Homo sapiens: one gene and its partners. The protein of the gene in region 2 purifies or fractionates together with the protein of the main gene of each other region. This does not show direct contact. Each region holds a gene or a part of one and is shown on either strand. Other genes may lie near its edges. The genes, in order: PRUNE1, GMFG and LANCL2.

Region 1 (7,111 bases), on a different chromosome or scaffold from region 2:
GCCTCCCAAAGTGCTAGGATTACAGGTGTGAGCCACCAAGCCTGGCCCACAGTATTTTATTTTAGTATTTTGTATTTTTTATTTAATAGACTAGGGATGGGGTCTTGCTATGTTGCCCAGGCTGGTCTCCAAATCCTGGTCTCAAGCAATCCTCCTGCTTCAGCCTCCGAAAGTGCTGGGATTCATACACAGTGTTTTATTTATTTTATTTTACTTTAATTTTTTTTTTTTTGAAATGGATTCTTGCTCTGTTACCCAGGCTGGAGTACAGTGGCACGATCTTAGCTCACTGCAACCTTCGCCTCCCAGATTCAAGCAATTCTCTTGCTTCAGCCTCCTGAGTAGCTGGGATTACAGGCACCTGCCATCATGCCCAGCTAATTTTTGTATTTTTAGTAGAGACGGGGTTTCGCCATATTGGCCAGGCTGGTCTCAAACTCCTGAGCTCAGGTGATCTGCCCAGCTCAGCCTCCCAAAGTTCTGGGATTACAGGCATGAGCTACCATACCCAGCCATACACAGTATTTTAAAAACAGAGGAAACAGTTTAGATTGTATATTTCATTTTATTATTAAAGTAACTAAAGCGAAGTAAGATGGTTGTGAGTAAAATCATGCAGATGATGGCAGTTAAACCAGAACCGAGGAACCCCAGCTTCTAATCTAGTGTCGTTTCCAAGTGTATAAATGTGCTCAAGAACTTGAACTAGGATGGAACTAGAATTTATCTAGAGGCCAGAAGAGGGATGGAGGAAGAAAGAATGAATTGAACAAAATAAGACTGGTATCACTATTACCCTCACTTACATGCAGGGAAACTGAGGCTTCAATGATCAGGTAACTTGCCTAAGGTCATAATTTGCATGAAGCAAAACTGACACTGAGCCCAGAGCTGTCACCAAAGCCAGTGTTCTAAATCAATATATTATACTACCCCTAACATAGGAGAAAGAGAGGAGATGGTAGAGTAGACTGTAAGAAAAGGACTCCTGGCTGGGCATAGTGGCCCACACCTGCAATTCCAGAACTCTGGGAAGCTGAGGCTGGTGGATCACTTGAGTCCAGGAGTTCGAGACCAGCCTGGGCAACATAGCGAGACTCTGTCCCTACAAAAAATACAAAAAAAATTAGCTAGCCATGGTGGTGTGCCTGTAGCCGCAGCTACTTGGGAGGCTGGGAGGATTGCTTGAACCCGGGAGGCAGAGGTTGCAGTGAGCTGAGATAGTGCCATTGTACCACTCCAGCCTGGTCAACAGAGTGAGACATCTCAAAAAAAAAAAAAAACACACACACACACACACAAAAACAAAACAGAGAGAGAAGGACTCCTGTTTCCAAGCATAGGGGCAACCTAGACAATGGTAGAGTCATTAGAAATCCACACAGCTTTAAAAGAGCAGCACAGAGGGGAGAAGATTCAGGAACGTGGAAGAGGTACTTCTAATGGCCAAAGCACCCTTTTCTTACTGACAGGATTAGTAAGAGCCACTATTTACAAAGTGCTTACTCTGCTCCAGGAGTGTGCTTTACACATGATATTACGTTTAATGATCATAGCAGAATTAGCAGTAGGTACTATTATGCCATTTCCAGATGCAGAAGTCAACTGACTTGCCTTAGCTCAAAGAGTGAGTAAGAGGCAAACCTAGAACAGAAAAGCACATCTACCTGACTTTAAAAACTGCAGTTCTTGGCCAGGTGCAGTGGCTCAGGCTTGTAATTCCAGCACTTCGGAAGGCCAAGGCAGGTGGATCACTTGAGGTCAGGAGTTCGAGACCTGCCTGGCTAACATGGTGAAACCCCATCTCTACTAAAAATACAAAAATTAGTCAGGCATGGTGGCAGGCGCCTGTAGTCCCAGCTACAGGCTGAGGTGGGAGAACTGACTGAACCTGGGAGGTGGCGGTTGCAGTGAGCCAAGATCACACCACTGTACTCAAGCCTGGGCGACAGAGTGAGACTCCATCTTAAAAAACAAACAAACAGACAAAACTGCAGTTCTTTTCATAATGACGAACTACCTTACACTGAATGAAATCAGATTTGCTTCCTGGGGAGAAGGCAAAGGCAAAGGGGGGCGGGAAAGGACAGACATACCTTCTATGAGAGCAAAGGATTATCTGGCTGTATTCTGTCTTTAGCAGTCCTCACAGAGCCTAGGCAACCCTCAGAATCCCTGAACTGCCTTAAGCCCACCTTTTTTTTTTTTTTTTTTGGAGACGGAGTCTTGCTCTGTTGGCAGGATGGAGTACAGTGGCGCAATCTCGGCTCACTGCAACCTCTGCTTGCCGAGGTTCAAGAGATTCTCCTGCCTCAGCCTCCTGAGTAGCTGGGACTATAGGCACGCACCACCACGCCCAGCTAATTTCCGTATTTTTAAAAGAGATGGGGTTTCACCATGTTGGCCAGGATGGTCTTGATCTCTTGCTCTCGTGATCTGCCCGCCTCAGCTTCCCAAAGTGCTGGGATTACAGGTGTGAGCCACCGCACCCAGCCTTAAGCCCACTTTTAAATTCTTCCCTAGGCTAATCAGTAACCAGCAGAGGAACAGAAGGGGGAGGAAGTAGGAAAGATAGCCAAATCTGGATCTAGATCACTTCTTTACAGAGTTTGCACTATACAGAATAATTAATCCCTGCATAGTAAGTAGCAGAAAAGGTCTCTCGTATTTCTAATTTTCAAGGCAACAGCATAATTCCAGGGGTGAGGAATTAATGATTAAACCAAGAATAGAGTTTTTGTTTTTTTTTTTCCCCAACAGAGATGAGGTCTTGCTATCTTTGCCCAGGCTGGACTCAAACTTTCCAGCTCGGCTGGGCGCGGTGGCTCACGCCTGTAATCCCAGCACTTTGGGAGGCCAAGGCGGGCGGATCACGAGGTCAGGAGATCGAGACTATCCTGGCTAACACGGTGAAACCCCGTCTCTACTAAAAATACAAAAAATTAGCCGGGCGTGGTGGCGGGCGCCTGTAGTCCCAGCTACTCGGGAGGCTGAGGCAGGACAATGGCGTTAACCCAGGAGGCAGAGCTTGCAGTGAGCCGAGATTGTGCCACTGCACCCCAGCCTGGGCAACAGCACAAGACTGTCTCAAAAAAAAAAAAAAAAAAAAAACTTTCCAGCTTAAGCAATCCTTCTGCATCAGCCTCCCGAGTTGCTGGGACTACAGGCACGTGCCACTGTCCCTAGCTCAAGAAGGGAATTTTAACTCCGGATTTATAACATTTCCTTCTAACTAGATTTCGTTCTTTCAAAGTAGGAATTGAATCTCTAGTTCTCTTTGGAATTCCCCCTTTCTCAACAATGCTATGATTAAGGATGTTCATTAAAAAAAAAAAAAGGATATTCATATAGAGAGAGAATGGGAAAAAGCAGAAAGGGGAGGAAACAGGTCCAGAAACAGGTCAAGGGACCTCATGTAAGTACATTAATATAAGAACCTAAGAGAGGTCCTTATAGGACAGCTGTAGAGCACAGAGGTACATACAGGCAGACTCTGTAAGGCTCTTAGGTTGGAGAAGGGACACAGACTCACCGTTGTTTGGAGTGCCACATGGGGACAGAAAATAGCCAACTGCCGCACTGGCTCATTGTGAGTGTTGAAAAAGATAGTCATGGCAACCAGGACATCATAGCTGTGAGCCTGGCAGAAAGCATGGAGATCTGCAAGGAGGTTAGACCTCTGCAGAAAGGCCTGAAAGGGAAGAAACGGAGAGGGATGAAGGACTTTCTCATCATCATCAATAAAACATCCTTGGGCCGGGCACGGTCGCTTACGCCTATAATCCTAGCACTTTGGGAGGCCGAGGCAGGTGATCACTTGAGGTCAGGAGTTCGAGACCAGCCTAGCCAACATGGTGAAACCCTGTCTCTGGTAAAAATACAAAAATTAGCCGGGCATGGGGGCATATGCCTGTAATCCCAGCTACTCAGGAGGCTGAGGCAGGAGAATCGCTTGAACCAGGGAGGCGGAAGTTGCAGTGAGCTGAGATTGCGCCATTGCACTCCAGCCTGGGGGACAAGAGCGAAACTCCGTCTCAAAAAACAAAAACAAAACAAAACAAAACAAAAAATTAGCTGGGCATGCCGGCACGCACCAGTAATCCCAGCTACTAGGGAGGCTGAGGCAGGAGAATTACTTGAACCCGGGAGGCAGAGGTTGCAGTGAGCTGAGATCATGCCATTCCACTCCATCCTGGGCAACAGAATAAGACTCAGGCTCAAAACAAACAAACAAACAAACATACATACATAACTGCTAGAGGTTTTTTGAGCATAGGAGATAGTACTTCAGTTAGGGTGGTCAGGAAAAACCTCCCAAAACAAGAGACATCTGAGCTGAGTACCTGAATGTTAAGAAGGAGCCAGCTTTACAAAGAAAAAAGCTCAGCTGGGAATGAGCTTAATGGTTCTGAGGAACAGAAAAGAAACCAGTGTGGCTGCAGTACTGTAGAACAGGAGTGGAGCTGGAATGAGATGAGGCCAGAGAAAAAGACAAGGGCCAGATCAAGCATGGCGCTGTAAACCACAGTAAGTCCTTTAGATTTTATTAAAAATACAATGAGGCCGGGCACAGTGGCTCACGCCTATAATCCCAGAACTTCGGAGGCCAAAAGGAGAACTGCTTGAGGCCAGGAGTTTGAGACCAGCCTGGGCAACATAGTGAGACCCCATCGACACATACATACACGCGCGCGCACACACACACACACACACACACACACACACACACTAGTTAGGTGTGGTGGTGTGCACCTGTGGACCCAGCTACTCGAGAGGCTAAGGTGGGAGGATTGCTTGAGCCTGGAAGGTTGAGGCTGCAGTGAGCCATGATGGTACCACTGTACTCTAGCCTGGCAACAAAGCATGACTCCCTTAAAAAAAAAAAAAAAAAATTAAAAAAGACCACTCTGGCTGCTGCGGGGAGAATGGTTTGTAGGGCTGCAAAAGCAGAGGCAGGGACACCAGTACTGAGGCTAATACAGCGGTGCAGTGAGAGATGCTGGACTCTGGTGGTCACAGTGGAGGTAGAGACAAAGATAGACACAAGATACATTTTGGAGGTGAGCCAGGAATGAGGTGCAAGGCCACATGCATAACATGCATAGCTAAAGGCTTTCTCTCCCCACCCACAGCCACAACTTGCTCTTACCTCCAAATCCATATATATTGCACTAATGGCCACCTTGACGCCTTGTCTATAGATAGTCTTCTGGTCTTTTCTCAGCATCTGCTCAGTGGTCAGTCCTAGAAAGCAGATGAGAGACTAGGGGTCAAACAGGGTAGGCCAGGGTCCCAAGACCAAGAAGGCAAGGACAGCCAGATGGGTCAAGGAAGGAAAAACAGCCTCTCTTTGGGGCAATGAATGGGGGAGATAATTGAAAATGTAATCATAGCCGGGCGCGGTGACTCAGGCCTGTAATCCCAGCACTTTGGGAGGCTGAGGTGGGCGGATCACCTGAGGTCAGGAGTTTGGGACCAGCCTGGTCAACATGATGAAACTCTGTCTCTACTAAAAATACAAAGAATTAGCTGGGTGTGGTGGCGGGCACTTGTAATCCCAGCTACTCAGGAGGCTGAAGCAGGAGAATCACTTGAACCTGGACTCTGTCTCAAAAAAAAAAAAAAAAAAGAAAGAAAGAAAATGTAATCACATAATCAAAAGCCATCTTAAATAACTGGTGACAATAGGTACCTTTAGAGCAAGTAACTTTGGAGAGAAGGATGAAACCCAGAACAGAGGCTTTTACTTTTTATCTTTCCCTCTTCCTATACTGTTTACATGTGAGTTCTTTCTTTCTTTCTTCCTTTTTATGTCAACAGGTGGTAGCTGAGTACAAGAATACAGTTTTTTTTGGGTTCTCTTCATCTTTTGTTTACTCACAAAATATTTCTTTTGCCTCCCTAACCAATTCTATAGATTTCACTCTGATAATTTAGTATACTCTCAGCATATTTTATATATATGTCCTGTATTCTCTGAATAGACTGGAACCTATGAGGCTCTTTTTGTTTTTTTTTGAGACGGAGTTTCGCTGTCGTTGCCCAAGCTGGAGTACAATGGCGCAATCTCGGCTCACTGCAACCTCCACTTCCCGGGTTCAAGCGATTTTCCTGCCTCAGCCTCCTGAGTAGATGGGATTACAGGCACACACCACCACGCTCAGCTAATTTTTCGTATTTTTAGTAGAAACGGAGTTTCACCATGTTAGCTAGGCTGGTCTTGAACTCCTGACCTCAGGTGATCTGCCCACCTCGGCCTCCCAAAGTGTTGGGATTACAGGCGTGAGCCACTGCGTCTGGCCCTTCTGAGGCTCTTAATACATTCCTCCTCATCCTAACCAAGAGCCAGGATAGAACAATCCAGTAAATGACTGATTATTTCATGCTTAGGCTAATATGGTACTTCATTTCTTTCTGGTATAAAATTTAAATAATTGGCCAGGCGCGGTGGCTCATGCCTGTAATCCCAGCACTTTGGGAGGCCCAGGCGGGCAGATCACCTGAGCTTCAGAGTTCAAGACCAGCCTGGTCAACATGGTGAAACCCGATCTTTACTAAAAATACCAAAATTAGCTGGGCGTGGTGGTGGGCGCCTGTAATCCCAGCTACTCGGGAGGCTGAGGCAGGAGAATCGCTTGAACCCAGGAGGTCGAGGTTGCAGTGTGCCAAGATTGTGCCACTGCACTCTAGCCTGGGTGGCAGAGCAAGACTCTGTCTCAAAAAAAAAAAAATAATATAATGAACAAGGCTTGCCTTTCTGTTTTCTTATCTGGGAGGCAGAAAAGTCAGCTAACATTTCATACCTGATACATCAAACTTTGCCTTTTGTAGGGAATCAAATATATCATTTCTCTTGGGTAGGTCTGGGAAAAGGGCCTCTAGTTTCTCCACATATTTGCTGTCCTTTGGGGTTGCCTTTCCAATTTTAAGGTCCATGTTGACACAGTCCAGGATGATGGTTCCTGTGGAGAAGGGAGATGGTGGAACTTGAATCCTGTGACCCTTCACACACAACCACCAGAACATATATAACCTTCACACCAAATGGACACACACAAGGAGATTTGTATAGCAAAATCTCTGAAAGCAAAATGAGAAACTGGGATGGACA
Region 2 (5,296 bases):
GGCAAGTGTCCCTTCCCTGTCTCCTCAATCTCACACCCCTGGGAGTCCACCGAGGGCCCAGGATCGACTTCAGCTTCCCCAGCCCTGGGTGTTCAGGCCTACCTGACCGTACAAACCATCCACCCCCCAGCAGCTCCTGAGATCCTGAAGCAATTACGTTCAAACCTCTTCGGCCTTTAAATTCTTCCTATCTAAGGGCTCAGCTGAGAAAAGTCGCATTCGGTGATGCCTCCTACCCCCCAGAGGTGGGGAGTGGGGGAGGAAACGGGCACTTTGCCTCCTTTATTCTCAGGGGTCCTTGTTCCCCTTGGGAGTGACCGCTCTGTAGATCCAGATATTTCCCCAATACCTCCAGGAGACCCAGGCCTCGCCCATCCGTCCCCCACCCCCCAAGGAAATCCTTCAGGCCCTTCCCTTTCTTTCTAAGAAAGAGGTATCCTCCTTCCCTCCCGGGACCCAGCTCGCATTCCTCTAGGTCAGCCCGCCCCCTGCTGGCCCAAGCCTCGTACTGCAGGAACCGTCGGCTAGAGCCCAGAAGAGGCAGAAACTGAGTCCAAACTGAGGATCTCCGAGTTTTTGCATTTTAAAATTTATTTAAAGTCTTGGTTGTTCAGGTCCTAGGGGTTCCAAGTCCCCAGTCACCTTGAGGACTCAGACATCAGGAATTCAGTCCCCAGCCCAGAGATCAACGAAAGAAAGACAACTTTTCTTGGAGCCAGGCCTCAGTGAGGTCATCAGTGGTGCGGATTTCGAACACCTGGGCAGAGAGAGGTCTCGGCATTATGATCTACTCAAACACTGAGACAGTGGCTGGGCACGGTGGCTCACCTGTAAGAGAGCACTTTGGGAGGCTGAGGTGGGTGGATCACTTAAGGTCAGGAGTTCGAGACCAGCCTGGCCAATATGGTGAAACCCTGACTCTACTAAAAATACAAAAAGTAGCCAGGTGTGGTGGCGTGTGCCTGTCGTCCCACTACTTGGGAGGCTGAGGCAGGAGAATTGCTTGAACCCAGGAGGAGGAGGTTGCAGTGAGCCGAGGTTGTGCCACTGCACTCCAGCCTGGATGACAGAGCGAGACCCAGTTCTTTAAAAAAACAAAAACAAAAACAAAAACCACTGAGACAGTGAGGACTCTAGTCCCTCTTCCCTCAGACCCAGGACCCACACCACCTCTCCCTAACACTCTGGAGCCCCATCCCAGTCTGAACCTTTGTGAGCTCTGCTGTCTGCACCAGCCTGTTTTTACTCCCTGCATACATCATCTGTTGTTCCGGCTTGCAGCCTGCGTGGAAAAGAGGAGAAAGGCACATCAGTGGGGACCCAGGCGTGTTCTCTAAAGCTCTAGTAATGTCCTGAAGGCCCTGCAGCTTGCCAAGGGTCCTAGGAGCTCTTCTAAGGAGGTCCCTGCACTGTACTCAGTTTCTAGGTTGGCTTGGGGGCTTCAAGTTATTCTGAGGGTCTCTGGAGATGATTTAGGGGCCAGACGGGGATTTCTAGGTGAAAGGAAAAGGTGGGTTGGCTTAGGCCCCAGGACTGAGAACGGGTGGGCTCTTGGTGAATCTGAGCCCCCACCTCCACTTCACTGCCCTCCCACATCATGCGTGCGACACACACACATCCTCACCCAGTCACACACAGGCTGTCACATGCTCACACTCTTACACAAGTGCCTGCACACATTCGCATTTACACACAAACACACACACACAGAATCGAAGACCCTCTCCTGAGGACAGTAGAGCTGTGTCTCACCCACAGGGCTGGAGAAGATGAAACACAAAGGGTAGGACACTCGGCCATCGTCATGCACGTACTTGTAGCTGTAAACCACGAACCTACCGTGAAAGGGAATTGAAAATCAGGACTCTGGCCTGCAGCCCAGGCTTAACAGCCATTACCTGAGTCCACAGCCTTGAAATGTTGGCTGAGTCTGAGAACCCAGGGTTGATGTCTGGGACTCAGGGTACTGACCTCAAACACAACAAATGATTAAAAAATAATCATAGGGCCGGGCGCAGGACTCACACCTATAATCCCAGCACTTTGGGAGGCCGAGGCGGGTGGATCACCTGAGATCAGGAGTTCGAGACCAGCCTGGCCAACATGGTGAAACCTCGTCTCTACTAAAAATACAAAAATTAGCCTGGAGTAGTGGTGGGCGCCTGTAATCCCAGCTAGTCAGGAGGCTGAGGCAGGAGAATCGCTTGAACTCAGGAGGCAGAGGTTGCAGTGAGCCAAGATCACGCCATTGCACTCCAGCGTGGGTGACAAAAGTGGAACTCCATCTCAAATAATAATAATAATGATAGTGCTCATTTGACTCACAATTACTTTATAATATAGGTGCTATTAATATCCCCATCGTACAGATGAGAAAACTGAGGCCCAAAGTCACTTGCCTAAGGTTCTACAGATAGGGGAGAGATTTGAACCTGGGAAAGTGAATGCCAGCGTGTAAGTTCTCACCCCCTATGCAATTCTGTCCAGTGCACTTGAACCCCAGGTGCACTGTGACCAGTGATGGCTACAGAATCATCCAAGCCCGGTATAAAATGAAAATGTGGGGCATCTTGTTCAAGAAGCAGGAAAATTGTTTTCCTTTCTTTTGTAGTCTCTCTCTAGACTGATCATCGTCTTTTTTTTTTACTGTTATTAGAGACAGGGCCTCACTCTGTTGCCCAGGCTGGAGTGCAATGGTGCGATCCTAGCTCACTGCAGTCTTGAACTCCTGGGCTCAAGCAATCCTCCTATCTCAGCCTCCAGAGTAGCTGGGAGTATAGGTGCACACCACCATGCCCAGCTAATTTTTTTTTTTTTTTTTTTGAGACAGGGTCTCACTTTGTCACCCAGGTTGGAGTACAGGGACGTGGTCTCAGCTCATTGCAGCCTCGACCTCCCAGGTTCAGGTGATCCTCCTGCCTCAGCCCCCCAAGTAGCTGAGATTACAGGGGCGTGCCACCACATCCAGCTAATGTTTTTTGTGTTTTTTGCAGAGACAGAGTTTCACCATGTTGCCCAGGCTGGTCTCGAACTCCTGAGCTCAAGTGATCTGTCCACCTCAGCCTCCCAAAGTGCTGGGATTACAGGCATGAGCCACTGCGCCTGGCCTTTTTTTAAAAAATTTTAGTAGAAATGGGGGTCTTGTTATGTTGCCCAGGCTGGTCTTGAACTCCTGGCCACAAGCAGTACTCCCACCTCAGACTCCCAAAGTGCTGAGATTACAGGTGTGAGCCACTGCGCTCAGCCTGTCTTTTTTAGTTTGCTATTTAAAGTCGTGCTCCCTCGGGCATGAGGATATGCGCAGGCAGAGTGCAGATGCTCACAGGAACACCCTGTAACTTGTCAGGCAAGGGGTGCCTTCTGGACCCTGACCCTCCCTACACCAGCAGGAAACCCAAGGACAGCAGCGGTCACTGGGTGGGTGCAGAGAGTGGGTGGCTGAGAACCTGTTCAGGGAGGCAGCCAGGTGGTGGACTGCCTGTGAACCTAGCTCCAAACCCCAGCACATTTGTGTGAAGTCCATTGTCCCATCTGACTTCATACAAAACAGAAATTCAAAGATAAAACTATAAAGAAGGTGACCGTTAACCCCCATGTGTGAGGCCCCCTCCTGGGTGCGGGGCCCTGTGCAATTATCATATGCCCATGAAGCTGGTCCTTGTTGAGTCCTACAGCCTCTAATCCTAGAGACCCAAAATGAATTCAGTCAAGATGAAAAATCTTAGCAGACCAGTTTTCACAGAAATAGTCAAAGAGCTCTTCCACCAAAAAAAGCACCAGGCTCATGTGACTTCGCCCAGGATTCTACCTGATAGTTAAAAGTCGAGTCATTCCTTTAGCAGGGTGCAGTGGCAGTGCCTGTAGTCCCAGTTACTTGGGAGGCTGAGGCAGGAGGATGGCTTGAGCCCAGGAGTTAGAGGCTACAGTGAGCCAGGATCACAGCACTGCCCAATAGCCTGGGTGACACAGTGAGACCCTGTCTCTAAAAATTTTTTTAATAAAATAACAATAATAATAATTAATTTGTTTGCTACCTAAAGTGTTCCCAAACATTGAAAAAGAAGGAAAATTTCTTTTTTTGTTTTTTTGAGACAGGGTCTTGCTCTGTCACCCAGGCTGGAGTACAGGGGTGCTATCTTGGCTCACTTGCAGCCTCAGCTTCCTGAACTCAACTGACCCCCGACATCAGCCTCCCAAGTAGCTGGAACCACAGGCACATGCCACCATGCCTGGCTAATTTTTTTTTTTTTTAATAGAGACAAGGTCCTCCACCAGGCGCGGTGGCTCACGCCTGTAATCCCAGCACTTTGGGAGGCCGAAGCAGGGATCACCTGAGGTTAGGAGTTCGAGACCAGCCTGGCCAACATGTCTCTACTAAAAATACAAAAATTATCCAGACATGGTGGTGGGCCCCTGTAATCCCAGCTACTCAGGAGGCTGAGGCCAGAGAATCGCTTGAACCCAGGAGGCGGAGGTTGCAGTGAGTCAAGATCGCGCCACTGCACTCCAACCTGGGCAACAGAGCGAGACTCTGTCTCTAACAAAAAAAAAAAAAAAATAGAGACAAGGTCTTGCTATGTTGCCCAGGCTAGTCTCGAACTCCTGGCCTCAGGTGATCCTCCCGCCTCAGGCTCCCAAAGGGCTGAGATTACAGGTGGGAGTCATAGTACCTGGCCAAAATTTCATTTTTAAAAAATGATGCCAGCGTAATGTTGAAACAAAAACTCAACAAAGTTTGTACAAAAAAAAAAAAAAGACTCTTAAACCGGTATCATAAATAATCGGTATAAAATTCTGCAATAAAATATTGCTATACAAACAAAAAGTTCTAGAGTATGAACTCTTGGCCTCAAACACAGAGATTCTTTTTTTTTTTTTTTTTTTTGAGATAGAGTCTCGCTGTGTCACCCAGGCTGGAGTGCAGTGGTGTGATCTCAGCTCACTGCAGCCTCTGCCTGCCAGGTTCAAGCGATTCTCGTGCCTCAGCCTCCCAAGTAGCTGGGATTACAGTCACATGCCACCACGCCCAGTTAATTTTTGTATTTTTAGTAGAGACGGGATTTCACCATGTTGGTCAGGCTAGTCTTGAACTCCTGACCTCAAGTGATCCACCCTCCTTGACCTCCCAAAGTGCTGGGATTACAGGGATGAGCCACCTCACTCGGCCAAACACAGAGATTCAAAGTCCATGAATAGGGCTGGAACTCCAGCAGTCCCTTAGCCTATACCTCCAACATCACCCCTCCCCTCATGGCCTGATCCAACCCTTTCTTCCCCCAGGATACCTGGGCTGTCT
Region 3 (7,797 bases), on a different chromosome or scaffold from region 2:
GAATAATATGATGTCCATTTCTTTCTTTAGCATATACTCACAACCACTGGCATAGGTCCCCACCCCAACTTACATTTCATTGCAGAGATATCACAAGCCCCATTAGTTACTTGTAGTCTAATTTTCTTTTCAACATAAATCAGGTATATAACTGAGGTCAAAAATCACATTTATCCAGATACAAAGGCTAAAAAGAAAAATACCCAATTTCAAAACTTTGAGTTGAATTAGTGTTTATCTCCTGTGAGGCTGCAAATGAAACTCACCTGCTTCCCATGTCTCTAACATTATTTTTGTTATTCTCATGTCAAGAGTTCATTTCATTCATCTTTCACTAAGCATTGCTGTAACCTACCTACTCCAAGGATAGTACTGAGATGGCCACTGGTAATAAGAATGAATGATGCAGTTTTTTCAATGCTTGCCAGATTTTTATTTTTGTTATTAAAAAATGAAACACTAAGTCACAAATGAAACACATATTTGTATGTAAAAATAGAAGAAATCTAGAGAAAAACCAATATTGAATATGAATCTAAACCGTGTAACTTAAATCATCAAGGGGAAGAGATTAACATTTATTGAGGCCTTTCTTAAGGTACCACATCAGGCAGTTTGCTAGGCAATTTATATGCTTCATCTAATTCAGACACATCCCCATCAGTTAGGACTTGTTCCCACAGGTTTGCTTGCTTTTGGTTTTTGAGACTGCGTCTAGCTCTGTCGCCCAGGCTGGAGTGCAATGGCGCAATCTCCACTCACTGCAACCTCGACCTCCGAGGCTCAAGCGATTCTCATACCTCGGCCTCCTGAGTAGCTGAACAGGCGTCCACCACCACGCTCGGCTAATTTTTGTATTTTTCTTTTGTAGAGACGGTGTTTTGCCATGTTGGCCAGGCTGGTCTCGAACTGCTGGGCTCAAGCAATCAGCCCGCTTCGGCCTCCCAAAGTGCTGGGATTACTGGCGTGAGCCACCGCGCCCGGCCTGTTTCGAGTTTTTAACCACATTCAAGAAGAGAGAGGTTTACAGAAGTCACTTGCCTTAGATTCCATATTCAGACCAATGGCTCTTTCAAAATTACCTTCTTAGTTTTAGCCAAATATGAAATACATGGAGATCCAAGGAGGTGAAGTGGCCATTGGAACACGTACCTCAGTGGAAAAAGAAAACCTGGTAAAGGTACGGTTTTACCAAGCATGAAAACAGTTGTGCTGATATTCAATCTTCTGTTTTATTCCCACTTTTTGCCTCCCACGTTAGATTCTGTTCAGATAGCCCGTGAAGGGTGACAGGGTATGCCATCCCAAAAATATGTCTCTGGCATAAGGATTATTTTAAGCTAAAAGCACTTGAAAAACAGAAGAGTGCTCTAAACTGCCCCCTTTTCTTCATGAAACAAGAGAAAACTCCTGTAAAACATGGCCTCCCTACACCAGGAACAAAGAAACACTCGGCACCAGAGCCGAGCAAGGCGGAGATTTCTACCTAGACGTGGTTCAAGCAGTTCCATCTTCCATTAGCCTCCCCGCACACTTTACTCTCCCACAGCTGCCGCTCTTGGTTCTGCCTAGCACAAAAGTATTTGGGTTTTGCCATTTCTTTGTGTCTTTTTCACGTAAAACATATTCAAGAGATGTATGTTTTTCTGTTGTTAATCTGTTTTATGTCAATGTAACGCTCTGACCCACCTCGCGACACTAAGAAAGTCAAGTTTGGCCTCCCCTTACACCCGCTTCCCATTTCTGGGCACACAGACAGTACGGACAATGCTTCTTTGTCGGCGAGAGCCCAGGGACCAGATATGGCCAAGGAAATCCAGCCTCCAGGCCACTTCTGAGGAGCAGGTAGCCGGCGGAGCGCTCCGCCGCGCAGGGGCGGGAGGTGTCCGCGGGCCTCACGAGTGCACAAGCCCGCATTGCGAAGCGCCGCTCGGGCCAAGAAGGAAAGCGCACTGTCCGCGTATTTCAAAGGCGCGTTGGGGCCAGGAGGGCCGAACTGCTGGAACGTGGTTCATGCAGCTGAAGCCCACGGACCCTAAGCGCGGCTCATCGGGAAGGCCCGGAGACAGGTGCTAGGCGCTATCATCCCGCGCCCTCCCAAGCCCGGCGCGCGCCTGTGACGTCACGCCTGGCGGAAGGTGGACGCTACCACCGCCGCGCTCCCCCTCCGGCGCCTCTGCGGCCAGGCCGCCGACTCACCTTCCCGTCCTGATGAAAAGGGAGGCCGGGCTCATCCGTGGTCGCCGGGGGACGAACACAGCCTGTCTCTTCGGCCGCTCCGGAGGCGAGCAGCGCCCCGGCGGCGGCCTCGTAGTCCGGGAAGGGGTTGACGAACGCCCGTTCCTCCATTTCTGCCTCCCCTCCCAGGTGGAGCTTCAGCCTCTTTGACATGGTCTCGCCCATCTCCGCCGCGGTACGGCGCGCGGGCGGGGACAAACCTCCTGTCCCGGCGCTGCAGCTCGCCCCGCCGCCGCCTCCTCCGAGGGCCCGCGCAGAGAGCGTCCTCTAGGAGGAGCGAGGCCGCGCGCTGGCGGGAGGAGCGGGGCGTCTGAGCGTGCACTGCCTCGTCGCGGGCTGCTCGCACATCAGGCGGCCGCAGAGGCGGTGGGCGCTGTGCCTCTGCCCTGTTCCTGGCGCCTTTGCCCTGCTCCCGACGGAGAGGAGCGGGCTCGCGGGAGCGCCCAGCGGCTCACAGCCTGCTCGCGCCTCCTCGCACCTTCCCCGTGGCCCGCAGAGCCCGTCCGCGGCGACGCGCACGGCCGGGGCTGGAGTCCCGGGGTGGGGATCGCTGCGCCCGGCCAGCCCCCTCCGCGATTTCCAAAGAAAACCGAACGCCCGCTAGGGCCACGCTCCCGCGGGGAAAACCTGTAGAGAAGAGGTCGCTGTCACTCAAGGTGTGTGCGCGTCGCCGACCGGGGCGAGCTCAGCCCCTGGCGCGCCGTCGTCAGCCTGCATTTCACCGGCCCCTGCTGCGCCAGCCCAAAGGAATAGCAGCAGTTCTTTGTTTGATATTAAGAAGAAAAAAAAAATCTCTTCTAAAGAACAGAATTTCAAAACAGTCTAAAACACTGCAAGGCTAGTCTCCGAGGGATGGGGGAGGGAGACAGTCCCTCCTATTCATCACTGTTGGAGGGGGGTGTCTGGGAGGAGGAGCCACAGGCCTTTTTTTTTTTCTTTTTATGTTTTATGTTCACTCCCTTTGTTTTGAATAAATGGACATCTTTGATACCGGGACATAAAATGAAAGCATACTTAATTATCCAAACATTTTATCGACCAGAAAGAGTCCTCCAGTGTTAATTGGCAAAGATCATAGTATGTATTATAAAAAGGACACAAGCAACCAGATCTTTACATTTATGTAATCGTGATGTGGTTTACTTCAGTCTTCATTGGTTCTCTTTATTTTTATTTGTTTGGACCAAATACGTGTAATGATTTCTGCTCCTTGAGGAAAATGTCTTATTTCCGTTTTCTTCCGCTCAGTAAACGTTGATTGAGCACCAAATGGTACTAGGTGATGAAGAAATAAGAGATTAAAAAGATAGTTTTGGCTCTCTGGGGATTCCCAGTTATTGGGTGAGAAAAGCAAGGATTACAGCATAGCTGATGTAGGTGCTTTTCTGGAAGCAAGCAAAAATACACGTTAATGTAAAAAGTGACATGATGAAGAAAAACACAGTGCCGAGCACAGGGAAGGCTCGGTTCCTCCTGCCTCCGTGGCCTCGGTGGAATGATGTGGGAAAGTCTGGCTTCCCACTACCTCTTCTAGTGTCCCCCCAACCCCACAGGGCTGGACATGTGAAACACACCCCACCAAGAACATGACCATGGGAAGGTACAGTGTAGAAGAAAATCATTTTAAAGGGGGTACTCAGCATAACTATCTTCAAAGTTCAGGGAAACAGAACAGATACAACAGGATGAGTGTTATAGCAGCATCCCTTAGCTCCACTTTCCTGCTTTCCCCTTTCCTGGGGTCTTTTCTCCCACCAAATTTTCATACCTAGACGGTGTAGGAAAATCCACTCCAGGAACTACTGATGCCGACATGCTCTAGGAGCCATCCTTATCCCACCACAGGGACTTAACTAGACAAAATAACCCACGGTGATATTCCCCAAAGTCTGGGGAACTATCACGCCTTGGACAGGTACAGCAGAAACGTCCACTGCGGGCTTTGTTAGGCTAAGCCTAGTGAATTCTCAGCTCTCCCTACCCAGGAGGGAGGTGAAGATTGTCTCTTCTTCCTGCAGTCTGCTGGTGGATAACTGGCAACTGTTGGCAAGTACAGAAACCTGTCCTAAAGAAAACCAATATTTTCAAAAGCTGAAAAATCGAAACCCAATTTAAGGAGTCGGCATATTTTCCTAAATGCTCTCTTATCGGCAGATCCCCTGCCCTCCTGGACAGCTCACTGACACTATTTTATGGAGAAGTGGTAGGTTCCCTTTCTTCAGCCTCCTGTCCCCTGGGGGTTTTTTAATGCAGAGCACAGGGGATTCCCTTCTGCGGCCCTTTTACACCCAGGGCTATCTTCCCCCGTGGCCACTCTTGAGCTCTTGAGTAGTACAGAGACCTTGGTCAGTGCCTTGAAATTACAACTTTATTTTCCTTAGGACAAGCCAAATTCTTAGGACACCCTCCCCACTCTTCTGTGTAAGAGAAGGGCAAGAGGACATACATGCCGGCCCAAAGCACACCCAAGGAGTCGTGAGGGCCCCTGGCAACTGACCTTTCAAAGGAAGACATAGTCCAAGGACACGATGTGCGAGAGGGCGGCATTGTGGCACCACGTTGAGATCTGGGGGGGCACTGGGCGGAGCAGCACCTGGGGAAGCCGCCGGGTGCGGTGCTTGGGTCACGGCCCTCCGGGGAGGCCACCGGGTGCGGTGCGGGGCAGGGCCCTACGGGGTGGCCGGCGGGTGCAGAAGTTGCTACCAGGGGAGGGTGTGCTCATCCTTGAAGATCTGAGTCAAAATAGGCAGTGTCATCCTCTTCCATTCCCCAGCACCTAACGTGGCTGCCCCAAAAGCCGCTGAGCTTGAGCTCCCTTCTAAAGCCAAAGCAGGCAGCAAGGCGGAGAGGAACCCCGGAGGTGGGAGGTCACTGGGGGGCGGGGAGGGTGGTTTCGGGGCACAGGGCAGCGGTGACTGCCCGCAGGGGCAAGCCCGGGCTCCCCGCCTGCGGCGGCTCCCCACCAAGTGGGGCCTGAGACAGGAGGAGCTGAGGTGGGGGCGCCTCCCTGAGAAACGCCACTTCTTATCTGGAGCGCCCCAAAGGTGAGAGGAAGACGATGGAAAACCTGGGGCACGAGGGCTCTCACTGTGGGGTTCAGCCATCGCCGAGCCCTGAGGCCCCGCAGACAGCCCCGGCTCTCCTCTTTACCCCAGAGTCAGGTACCAGCCTCTGGCCCGGGAACCAAGCCTCAGGTGCTTGCAGGGCTAGAATGTGTGGTTCTGAGAACTGCGTGGTGCTGGGTCAGAACCACGTGGGGCCTGTATTATGTATTTCAAAACTTCACGCTTCCCTGCAGCCTCAACACGGAAAACAGGCAGTGAGCCCCCCTCTCCCCCACCCCGCCCAGGTGACCAGATGCCCCAGTGTGGTGAGCTGGCCCTGCCACAGTTCCCCTTCCTGCCCTCCCGGACTGTGACCTAGTGACAGAGATTCTTTGTTCTACCAAACTAGTCAGGTTCCTGAATCTCCTCCAAGGCCCATCTGCACACTTCCTTATAAAATCCAGTTTTAGCAAACAGCCTTGCTAAGTCACTTTAGGAAGAACCACCCCCTAATATGTGATCACCCCCATTATTTGACCAGGTTCCCTATCCCTCACTATCCCCTAGGTGATGTTGGATCAACCTGGCCTGTGTTCAGCAAGAAGCCTATTAGGTAAGATTAGTCAGTACCCACCTTCCCCTTCATGTTATCTCTTAGTAATTTTCCATCCAGTCACCCCCACCTTGCTTCTTGGCTATCCATTTCCACTTGTATTGGGAATTAAGCTCAATCTTTCTCCCACACTGCAAAATCCCATCGTGGTGGTCCCCATACCGTTAAGGTCTCAATAAAGTCAGCCTTACCCTGTGCTGTGAATGGTGTGAATGTTTTTCCTCTCTAAAAGTCATGTTGAGACTTAATCCCCAGTGTGACAGTAATCCATTCGTGGACGAAGGGATTAGCAGGTTGTCTCGGAGTGGGACTGTGGCTCTATATGAAGAAGAGAGACCTGAGCTGGCACACTCAACCCCTTACCATGGGGTGCTCTGTGCTGCCTGGAAACTCTGCAGAGACTCCCCATCAACAAGAAGGCCCTCGCCATGTGTGGCCCTTTGACCTTGGACTTCTCCAACTCCAAAACTGTAAAAAATAAATTCCCTTTCTTTATAAATTACCTAGTTTCAGGTATTATATTATAAGCAACAGAAAACAAATTAAGACCCTGTGCTTTAACAGTTGACATTGAATAATTTTCCTGTAATATTGAGACGCTCAACACACCGATGAAGCCCCGCCTGCTTTTTGCTTGTGTCCACCCTGACCCCCAGTGACAGCATTGGCCCACAGGTCCCCACTCCCTCTGCTCTCCTTCCACGTGGTGGAGCCCCTCCCTTTGCAGGGTGGCCCCTTCATGGTGCACAGTGACTGCCTCTCTAGGACCTGGAAGCACAGTCAACTTTTCTGTGCCTCCCCCGTGTCCCCATTGTGGCCGCACCTGACTGATCATGAAAGAATAGAAAACAGGGTCTCTGTCCACAGTACCACCTGTGGAAGGGTGGTAGCAGAAGAGAAGGTACTCATGCTGAGTGAAGGAACTGCTCTGCCAATAACTACATTTTCACCACCTCACTGCAGACCACATGTATGGGGACTCTGAGGGTTCTGGTGCTGCGGCCATCATGCCTGTCAGCATGACAGAGACAGTATGGCACCCTGAAGAGCAGTGGCAGCACTCAGGGAGTAGACCTGTTCATGAACATAAGACACATACCAGGACAACTCTTAAGATTTGGGAGGAGACTGGTTTGCAGGCAATGAGCCAGTGCAATATGAGTTACTATGCTACTGTTCACAGTATACACAGGTTAGTGGGATCTGCTTTACCTGGCACAAAGAGCAGCTGCAGCGGTCAGATCTTTCCTCTAAAACATCCAAAAGTATTTTTCCTTAACAAGTGCCATAAGGTACTGCCTCAGGTCTCAGGTTGCTGTTTCTGCCTTTACCTACATGATTATTTTCTTTTCTTTTCTTTTCTTTTGAGGTGGAGTCTCGCTCTGTTGCCCAGGCTGGAGTGCAGTGGCACGATCGCGGCTCACTGCAAGCTCCGTCTCCCAGGTTCACACCATTCTCCTGCCTCAACCTCCTGAGTAGCTGGGACTACAGGCTCCCACCACCACGCCCAGCTAATTTTTTTGTATTTTTAGTAGAGACGGGGTTTCACCATGTTAGCCAGGATGGTCTCGATCTCCTGACCTCGTGATCCACCCATCTCGGCCTCCCAAAGTGCTGGGATTACAGGCGTGAGCCACCGCGCCCCGCCTACGTGATTATTTTCTTACTTCTCCATGCAAAGAAATAGGCTTCTTTTGACACAGCCTGGACTTCATTTGATGCAGCTTCTCCTTTTATAAAGAATGTGCTGGCTAGCTACTTCACTATCTGGTGTCCCAAGCAGATAATAGCACAGAAACCATCCCCCTGCCTGGCATGTGTCCATCTCTCATGGGATGTTGGGCTTAGTGTGAGGCATTTTGACATTGTTGAAACTATGGGTAAGGCTGCCCTCTAAGAATG

The links.
Region 1: the proteins of GMFG (region 2) and PRUNE1 purify together in Homo sapiens (affinity purification with mass spectrometry; 2 studies listed by BioGRID and IntAct, with this or other methods). This does not show direct contact.
Region 3: the proteins of GMFG (region 2) and LANCL2 purify together in Homo sapiens (affinity purification with mass spectrometry; 2 studies listed by BioGRID and IntAct, with this or other methods). This does not show direct contact.

What each region holds. Positions count from the first base shown.
Region 1 is NC_000001.11:151,025,366-151,032,476, reverse strand, and holds part of PRUNE1 (exopolyphosphatase PRUNE1), read right to left. Parts: intron 6,963-7,111; coding exon 6,804-6,962; intron 5,245-6,803; coding exon 5,150-5,244; intron 3,692-5,149; coding exon 3,533-3,691; intron 1-3,532. UniProt on the Homo sapiens protein: Phosphodiesterase (PDE) that has higher activity toward cAMP than cGMP, as substrate. Plays a role in cell proliferation, migration and differentiation, and acts as a negative regulator of NME1. Plays a role in the regulation of neurogenesis.
Region 2 is NC_000019.10:39,327,792-39,333,087, forward strand, and holds the end of GMFG (glia maturation factor gamma), read right to left. Parts: coding exon 5,286-5,296; intron 1,836-5,285; coding exon 1,753-1,835; intron 1,283-1,752; coding exon 1,209-1,282; intron 758-1,208; coding exon 686-757; 3' UTR 568-685; downstream 1-567.
Region 3 is NC_000007.14:55,360,632-55,368,428, reverse strand, and holds the start of LANCL2 (lanC-like protein 2), read right to left. Parts: upstream 3,093-7,797; 5' UTR 2,404-3,092; coding exon 2,200-2,403; intron 2,075-2,199; exon of another isoform or gene 1,690-2,074; intron 1-1,689. UniProt on the Homo sapiens protein: Necessary for abscisic acid (ABA) binding on the cell membrane and activation of the ABA signaling pathway in granulocytes.